Regions from separate parts of the Homo sapiens genome. Here region 2 is linked to region 1. Evidence: fine-mapped expression QTL. Tissue or cell type: pancreas. Region 1 holds a variant in brackets; the other region holds the start of a gene. All regions are shown on one strand. Distances are between the middles of the regions.

Region 1 (4,247 bases):
GGGGGGGTCTCCGCCTTGGCCACAACCACAGCCCCTCCTTCCTACCCCCACCTCTGGTCATGGAAACCAGACGCCCCAGTCACTCAATGGACAGATGCTGAAGAACTTGGAGAATAATCACAGACAGAGCCCCCTTCCCAGAGGGACAGACCCATTGCCAAGGCCTCAGCCCAGAGGGACTGTGCTGGTCCCAGAAACAGCCCACATAGAAATGGTTTGGACGATTGGCTGGCCTTGTAAGGGTGGCTGGACGGGGGCCAGCTGGTAAAACATCGCGGTGGTGAGGAAAGGTGCCTGGAGCTAATGTGTATAGATAGGAGTATCATTGTGCCACCGGGCCAGGCATTCCCCACCCAGCTGACCTGATTATGGATGGAGGACAAGATGCTGCTGCTGCCAGCTTCCCCAGACCCCCAGACCATGCAGCACTTCCTGGCCTCAGACAGTTCCTCCTCTATGAAGATTTGTCCAATCAGAGCAGCCACAGGCTGCCCCAGCCTCTCTGTATTCACATCCTGGACCTTCCTGGCCTGACACCCTCAATTTTATACTGCATCTTGTTTGCTTCCATAAATGTCATCCTGTGTGTCAGATCACATGTCCCCCTTTTTTTGGTCTCAGAAAATAAGATTGTTATATTTACATTACTTCATTGAGTTTTATTTTGTGGAAGGCAGAGGGAGAGCGTAAGTAATGAGTTTGTTGTGTCTTGCTTTCCAACCCATTGTAGATTTCCTATTTTTTCTTTCCTGTTGTAAATGTTAATCAATCAATCTACAATCATGTATAATAATAATGCTTATACTTTCGGTTAGTGGCTCTGAGTTCTACTGACTTAAGTCCCATACACCCACCAGCCTGGAATTCCTTCCAGTGGGGCTACCCCACAGCTTTCTGGGGCACAGCCTTGCTTTCTCTCACAGTCTGGTCACTGTTGAAAAAAGCCGACATTGTCTTCTTGATTCAAATAGGCCTTCTGGAAAACATTATTCTGAACAATCTCACAAAGATCTATAAAGAGTTTTCTTTCTTTCTTTCTTTTTCTTTCCTTCTTTCTTTCTCTTTCTTTCTTTCTTTCTTTCTTTCTTTCTTTCTTTCTTTCTTTCTTTCTTTCTTTCTTTCTTTCTTTCTTTCTTTCTTTCTTTCTTTTCTGAGTTGGATTATCTTTCTGTCACCCAGGCTGGAGTGCAGTGGCATGATCTTGGCTTACTGCAACCTCCACTTCCCGGGTTAAAGTGATCCTCCTGCCTCAGCCTCCCAAGTAGCTGGGACTAGTGTGCCCACCACCATGCCTGGCTAATTTCTGTATTTTTAGTAGAGATGGGGTTTCATCATGTTGGCCAGACTAGTCTTGAACTCCTGGCCTTAAGTAATTCACCCGCTTCAGCCTCCCAAAGTGCTGGAATTACAGGCATGAGCCACCGCACCCAGCCAAGTGTTTTCAAAAATTGTGAACCAAACACCCAGCACCTTAAAGTATGTGAGAAGTTTAACATTCCACAATTAGACCACTTGATCTCCACAAGGGGGATACTGTGATCCCAGGAGAGCCTTGCCCGGGAAGCCTGGATTGTTCTAAAGCTTGGAAGTGACATCCCAGGTCCACACTGTAGGTTTCCTCTCAGCTCTGGGTCTGGGGGCCTTTGTCATGGCTGCAACTTGCAGAGAGGTGTCTTAGGACTGGGATGCCGCTGGCTGAGGCCCTCTTGAGGGTCCTTTTTCCCTTTCTACAGCCACATATTGGATTCTCTTATCGGAGCTTGGCAAGCTCTTCCCAGGGGATTTGCTGTTCCTGGCTACTTCCTCTCTTCCTCCTCTCCCCTTCCTTCTTAAGTCCCCACCCTCTTCATCTTCCTCTTTTCCCTTCTTCTCCCTTTTCTTTTCTTTCTTTTTTTGAGATGGAGTCTCGCTCTGTCGCCCAGGCTGGAGTGCAGTGGCATGATCTCGGCTCACTGCAACCTCCACCTCCTGGGTTTGAATGATTTTCCTGCCTCAGTCTCCTGAGTAGCTGGGATTATGGGCACACACCACCAGGCCCAGTTAATTTTTTTTTTTTTTTTTTTTTTTAGTAGAGATGGGATTTCACCATGTTGGCCAGGCTGGTCTCAAACTCCTGACCTCAGGTGATCCACCCACGTCGGCCTCCCAAAGTGTTGGGATTACAGGCATGAGCCACCAAACCTGGTGTTCTTCCCCCTTTTCTTGCCCTTCCCTCATCTGCCTTTCTGGACAGCCCCGCCCAGTGTTCCCTCTCCCTGGGGTCTGTGTTCCGTGTGACAGCCCCCTGCAGGTGGAGGAGCCAGCTCCCCATGTCCTTGCCTCCCCAGTGCTCCAGCCTCCCTGCCTGGCTCAGCCGCCTCGGCAGATGCAGGCACCCCCTGCATTGTTTGCTGTCCTGAAGACGAGCAGCTGCC[G/T]CACTAATTGCCACCAGCAGGGGGGCCGGGCTGTGCTCGCACTCCTCCTGCCGATTAGGGGGCGACAGGGGGGCGGTGGGGGGGGGGGCAGTTTTCAGGAGCCGAATGAGCTGAGCCAGTGTTGAGCATTATTCCAGGAATTTTAAACACTCGTTAAAGGCTTTGCCATGTCTCACTTCAGTACACATCATGCTCCAGTTACTGCTGGGAACTGCGGGGGCATCAGCCCGGGCAGCACTTATCAATATTTTAGCACGAGAAAGGCAAATGATGTTGAAACATTGAACTATATTTCCATCTGTTCAAACTGAAATGGAACAAGCTTAGCTCAGGAAATGGAATCTCTCCTCCCCAGCTGCCTTGGAAGCAGCAATACCCACTGGCCTGGCCTTGGCCCTTGCCTCAGTTTCCCCTTCACCTCTCTTCTCGATTAGTCCCCAGTGTTCATAGCTTATGGGCATGATATTGAGCAGGTGTTAGGTTTGTGGGTAGAGCAGGAGTGGTGGCACCTCAAAGAACCTGAGAGGGACCCCCGTTCTTGTTAAAACGTGCCTTCCCCATTGACTGACAGAGAACAGTGGGGTCAAATGCGGTCTGTCTTAGTGCCAGGGGACATCCTCTCCATCCCCTGCACGGGCCTGTTTCAGTGTCTCTGGACTGTCCGTCCTGCAGGAAGACCCAGGATGGCTGGCTGGATGTGAAAAGGAAAGCACTGACCATATACAGGTGGACGAACACCGTAAATACCACACACAAATAAAGCATTTATGGTAGAACCCTGTTTCCCCTGGAACAAAACAGAATTTATTGGCAGGAAAGAAACTTAAGAAATATTGGCATTCAGTTGTCTGGGAAGAACAGAGAAGTTTCTACAGTGTGGAAAGCAGGGTGGCTGATGTGGGTGGAGATGAGTCATCTCATGTGATTTAGGGGAGAGCCCATGGGATGTCTCCTCCAGCAGGGCCCCCAAAAGGCCTGTGGTTAACAGTATTCAAGGAAGAAGGAACCCTTTTGTCCCCAGCCCTAAAGCAGAATGGGGGATTGCTTCTTCCCATTTCCCCTCAGACTGTCTTTTGGCAACCTCTCCCTTTGAGGCTGTTCAGTTTAATTTGGTTCATCTGCAGGGAAATAGGGGTGGGGTGGGTGAAGGGCATGTGGTAAGAGATGGGCCCAGAGCCTGCATTCCCCAAGACTCACCCTGCTAAGAGGGGTCCTGGGGACTGGTGTGGGGTATATACTTTTTGTTTCTGGCATCAACTGAAGAATAATTGCAAGACATTCGTCACCCAGGCCCCCATGCAGGCAGCTAGGCTGGTGACAACTTGCCTTTTGGGGAAGGGGTTTCCACTGTGACAACTGTAGCAGCAGCAGAGAGGCTCTTGTCTGTCACAGGAGATCGAGGGCTGCAAAAGCCCGAGAACCCACTGATTTCATCCCTCTCTCTTTTTGCAGACAAGGCCACCTACATCCCAAGCCAGCTGGAGGAGCAGCTTCCAGTCTTCAGAGATGGGCCCCTCTTCTTCAGTTGGCCTTGGTAGTCAGGACAGAGGACAGAGGGATATATTGTAACATATATTGTAAAATTTGAGCCACATACACGGGATAAATGACAACGCAAATAATCATCTCCGAAAAGAAATCTGACATCCGACGACTTAGAGGCCAGAGCCATTGCTGACGCTCCTGGGGAGGAACATTCTTTGCAAGCATTTGTGCCTCAGTGAGGGTGGTGGGGAGCCAGCAAAGTGCTGGGCTCTGCAGAAATCTAGGGGGCTGCCTGGGTGATGTACAAATGCAGACCTATTACATCAATAGAAAAATGTAATGTGTTCA
Region 2 (4,247 bases), 23 kb before region 1:
GTTTCGGGGACGGGGAGGGGACTGACCGGGTTCACCCGCCCGCCCGGCGCCTGGGTCCCCGGCTCCGGGGGATGCAGTTTCGGGGTCACGAGCTGCTTTCAAAAAGTTGAACACAATATTCGGAAACCCACCCGTAGGAATTCTCCCCCCACACGCGGCACAATACCCACTCCCCTCCCCTTTTTCATTCCTTCCTCCCCCGCTTCCTCCTCCTGCCCCTTCCCCCTCCCACCCTTCAGCCTATAATCCTTCCCCTACGAGAGAAAGGGATCGGGAAGAAAACATGAAGTGTCTGTTTTTGTGTCCCAACCTTTGGGCTCTTTCTGGGCCCTCAGTGAATGACCGCCCAGAGCTTTCAGCTGCGTGGAGAAGGACTCATGGCCAGGAGGAGAGGAAATATATATGGAGTGGAGAGAGCACTGAAATGGGGCTTGGCAGGTCTTCCCTTTGGAGGAATATTTTTCTGCCCCAGTCGTCGTGTTGAAGACCTGCTACCCCACGGCTGTCTCTGGCTAAGTGAGCCAGTATTGGCCCCTCGCCGGACCCAGGGCCTCCCTGCCGCCCGGAATCCTCCAAGGAGGCTTGCACTTGTCGGCTTGCTCTTCTCCCCGGCCCTCAGAGGCCTGGCACTGCGGGAGTCAAGGCCTAAGCAGGGCTCCAGCTCGGGGTTTAGGGGCTGGGACACTCACAGCCCCAGTCACGTTAGGTTTCCCATTTAAATTCTCTCTCAACCTCTCTTTCTCTCTTCCCTCATTGAGATCACCAAAGTGGTGTGGACACGGCGCCTTGCCCCCAGATCTGCATCGGAATGCAGAAAAGATCTTTAAAAAAAAAAAAAAAAAGTTTTGAATTCCTCAATGATTTTTCTTCTGGAAAGGCAGCTTAGGATAATTATTTCAGCTTTATTGAGGGCAGATTAGTTGAAGTCTGGGCGCTGCGTTTCAATACGCGTTGTACACGGGCCGACAATGTGGTCATTGTTGGCTACTGTGTGTGAATCCATTCAACATATACACTTTTTAACACCAAACCGAGTCCTGTCTAAATATACACAGTGCTCAGGGAAAGACGTCTCTGACCCCGACAAATCTGCGTAAATCACACTTCCATAGTTACAGAAGCCTCACAAAGGGAGGCCCGGCTCAAGATGCTGATTACAGCTTCTTAAAAGCAACATACCTAAGAATAAATACCCATGCCTGGCCTAGGGGCTGTGGTGGCCAGAGGCAGAGAGGGCCCTCTGTGTTCTATGGGCCTTTTGGCGTCTGTTTTAGGCTTTCGATGTTACTTTCCCTAGAGAAATTAGACAGTTTAAAAATAATAATGGTAATTATTATTATTTTACAATACGAGCAAACAAGCAATTTTCAGGCCTTATTCACTTCATCCGGGTGGCTGGCCTCCAAAGTTTGAGTGCCCTCTGGGGCTGGCAGGCAGGACCAGAGCTCCTTCTGTTGTGTGGTGAGGAGTGGGCATCTGTAGGACTTTTCTGGGTCCAGAGGGCTCTTGGGCTTCTCGGCTCCCGCAGCTCCTCCACCACTCCTCAGAGAGGCAGCTGAATTCTGGGAAGAAACAAAGAGTTGAGTTGCTTCTTAAGATGGAAAGAAGTGTACTGTTTGGACTGTTATTTTAAAATACAGGGTGGTGGGGGAAATCGAGGCTCCTTGGCCGGGGAGGGAGTAAAGAGAAGCCTAATTGATGAAGAGGGAGTTGAGGTGAATGCGGTCCATGGGCACCGATGGGGGAGGCAAGAGCGGCCTCCAGCACCCTGGGAATTGGGCTCAGGCTCCCTGGCGCCAGATACCCTCGGAATCCGGGATCCCCGGCTGGCGCCACGGCCCGCTGGGCCAAGGTCGGTGCTTGGTGGGCCCCATGATCTCATCTCTCCTTTCTTCCTTGCCACTATTAGTGCTCACATAGGCAGAAAGAGGCGGCCCGACGTGCAAACCATGTGCAAACCGCGCCCGCTGGGCTGGTCAGCCGTCTTTCCTTGCCTGCCGACCTGGACTATGTGGAGCCTGGGGGACCCTCTTGCCTCCCAACAAAATCCCCTCTCTAATTGCACATCCCATTCAACAACTCTGCCCAGGGCTTTTCGAATTTCTGGATCAACTTCTTTAGGAAAAAGGGAAGAAGAAGTCTCAGAGACAGCGGTAGAGAAAAGAGGAGAGAGAGGGAGAAGAGAGAAGAGAGGAGGGGGAGGTAGCGAGATTAAGAGTTGCAAAGATAAAAAAAATTCTCTTTATCCCCCCACTTCTCCCTCCTTCCCTGCTCTCCCCCTCCCCCCGCCCTCTGGCTAAGTGGTAAAACCGTCCTTACGTTCTCGGTATTGATTGGCAGGGCTGACAGTGATTGGCAGTGGTTGCCGTGGCAACGCCACAACGACACGCCACAGACCAATAGAAAAGCGAAACAAAATGTTTCAATGCTGCACTCACTGTGGATTTAGGGGAGATATTATGAGGCTGTTGTCATTAGGGCGATTGCGGTGGAATCGCTGAATCTTGACTCGGCGGTGGTTGGCTCTCCCTCTCCTCTCTCCCTCTCCCTCTCCCTCTCTGTCTCGGGTTCTCTCTCTGCGCGCGCGCACCGGGCCGCTCTCCTACCTCCCTCTCTATGTGGCTGCGCGGGTGTGTGTGTGTGTGGATGTGTGTGGGGTGTGGGTGTCCCTTACGCCCTTCCTCCTCTCCCTCCTCCTCCTGCTCCCCCCTCCTTTCCTTCTCCTCCTCCCCCCTCTCCTCTCCCTCCTCCTGGTCCTCATCGCCCCTCTCCTCCTCTTCCTCCCCTCTCTCTTCCTCTCCCTGAATTTTCTCCTCTCCTCTCAGGTCAGTCCATGGTATTCCGCTCCCCCCTAGACCTCTATTCCTCCCACTTCTTGTTGCCAAACTTCGCCGATTCTCACCACCGCTCCATACTTCTGGCGAGTAGCGGCGGCGGGAACGGTGCGGGAGGCGGCGGCGGCGCGGGAGGCGGCAGCGGCGGCGGGAACGGTGCGGGAGGCGGCGGTGCTGGCGGAGCAGGCGGCGGCGGCGGCGGCGGCTCCAGGGCCCCCCCGGAAGAGTTGTCCATGTTCCAGCTGCCCACCCTCAACTTCTCGCCGGAGCAGGTGGCCAGCGTCTGTGAGACGCTGGAGGAGACGGGCGACATCGAGCGGCTGGGCCGCTTCCTCTGGTCGCTGCCCGTGGCCCCCGGGGCGTGCGAGGCCATCAACAAACACGAGTCGATCCTGCGCGCGCGCGCCGTGGTCGCCTTCCACACGGGCAACTTCCGCGACCTCTACCACATCCTTGAGAACCACAAGTTCACCAAGGAGTCTCACGGCAAGCTGCAGGCCATGTGGCTCGAGGCGCACTACCAGGAGGCCGAGAAGCTGCGCGGCCGCCCACTCGGCCCGGTGGACAAGTACCGCGTGCGCAAGAAGTTCCCGCTGCCACGCACCATCTGGGACGGCGAGCAGAAGACGCATTGCTTCAAGGAGCGGACTCGGAGCCTGTTGCGGGAGTGGTACCTACAGGACCCCTACCCCAACCCCAGCAAGAAACGCGAACTGGCGCAGGCCACCGGCCTCACTCCCACACAAGTAGGCAACTGGTTTAAGAACCGGCGGCAGCGCGACCGCGCCGCGGCGGCCAAGAACAGGTTAGTGGCGGGGCCCGCGGCCTGGCTACAGCCTCAGAGGCCTGGGAAGGGGAGAGGGGTTGAGATGGGGCTAGCGGAGCGGCCGCTGAGAGCCAGGGAAGCCGTGACTCCTGGCCAGTCGGAGAAAGTTTCCGCTTGTCCGGGACGCGCGGAAGAGGGGGCCGGGCTGGCTGTGGGTGTATTGATTGCTTTGACCAAGAGGGGCTTTCGTCAGGGCAGAGAGTGTGTGCTTGCGACCCGAGTACCCGCAGCCCCTGGGAGACTTAGCCCTGCGCTGCACCCGTGCCTGCCTCCTCAGCCCTGCCGCCAGCTCGGCGATCCTCTGGAGCCTAGAGACAGGGAGGGAAGGAAAGCACTCTTTGCCATCTGGTTCTTATTTCTGTGCGTTGCAAAACCCCGAGAGAAATCCACTAGCGTCAGAGAGAGGAAAGTGAACCTGGGTCCCTATCACAAGGGGAAAAGGCCAGAGGCCACTGCGCAGCGGGCCTGTTTCCCCGCAACGCTGCACGTTGCCTGACCGGGAGCAGGAGAGCCGGGCTGGGAGTGGAGAGGCCTAGCGTGTGCGTGTGCGTGTGTGTGTGCACGCCCGTGTGCATGTACTCGCCCTC

Direction of the effects. Positions count from the first base shown, and alleles are read on the strand shown. Sizes are in standard deviations (SD) of each study's normalised expression.
For the expression in pancreas of the gene that starts at base 2,431 in region 2, T is the low allele of the variant in region 1 and G is the other (moderate effect, 0.62 SD a copy in GTEx).

What was found. PIP is the estimated chance that this variant, and not a neighbour inherited with it, causes the effect.
Region 2: it holds the start of SIX3, and the variant in region 1 is the best candidate, but not a certain one, in a credible set for the expression of SIX3 in pancreas (GTEx, PIP 0.87).

What each region holds. Positions count from the first base shown.
Region 1 is chr2:44,962,552-44,966,798 of GRCh38, forward strand. No RefSeq gene overlaps it. Among named protein-coding and RNA genes, the nearest start is that of SIX3-AS1, 23 kb to the left of the region's middle. The variant G/T (reference allele first, on the strand shown) is at 2,415.
Region 2 is chr2:44,939,272-44,943,518 of GRCh38, forward strand. SIX3 (SIX homeobox 3) reads left to right here and starts at 2,431. Exons shown (of 2, transcript NM_005413.4): 1 at 2,431-3,639. The coding sequence starts at 2,834. It overlaps SIX3-AS1 (SIX3 antisense RNA 1), which reads right to left and starts at 2,607. Exons shown (of 2, transcript NR_103786.1): 1 at 2,439-2,607; 2 at 883-1,562. RefSeq lists enhancers at 95-596, 597-1,096, 1,865-2,391, 3,474-4,198.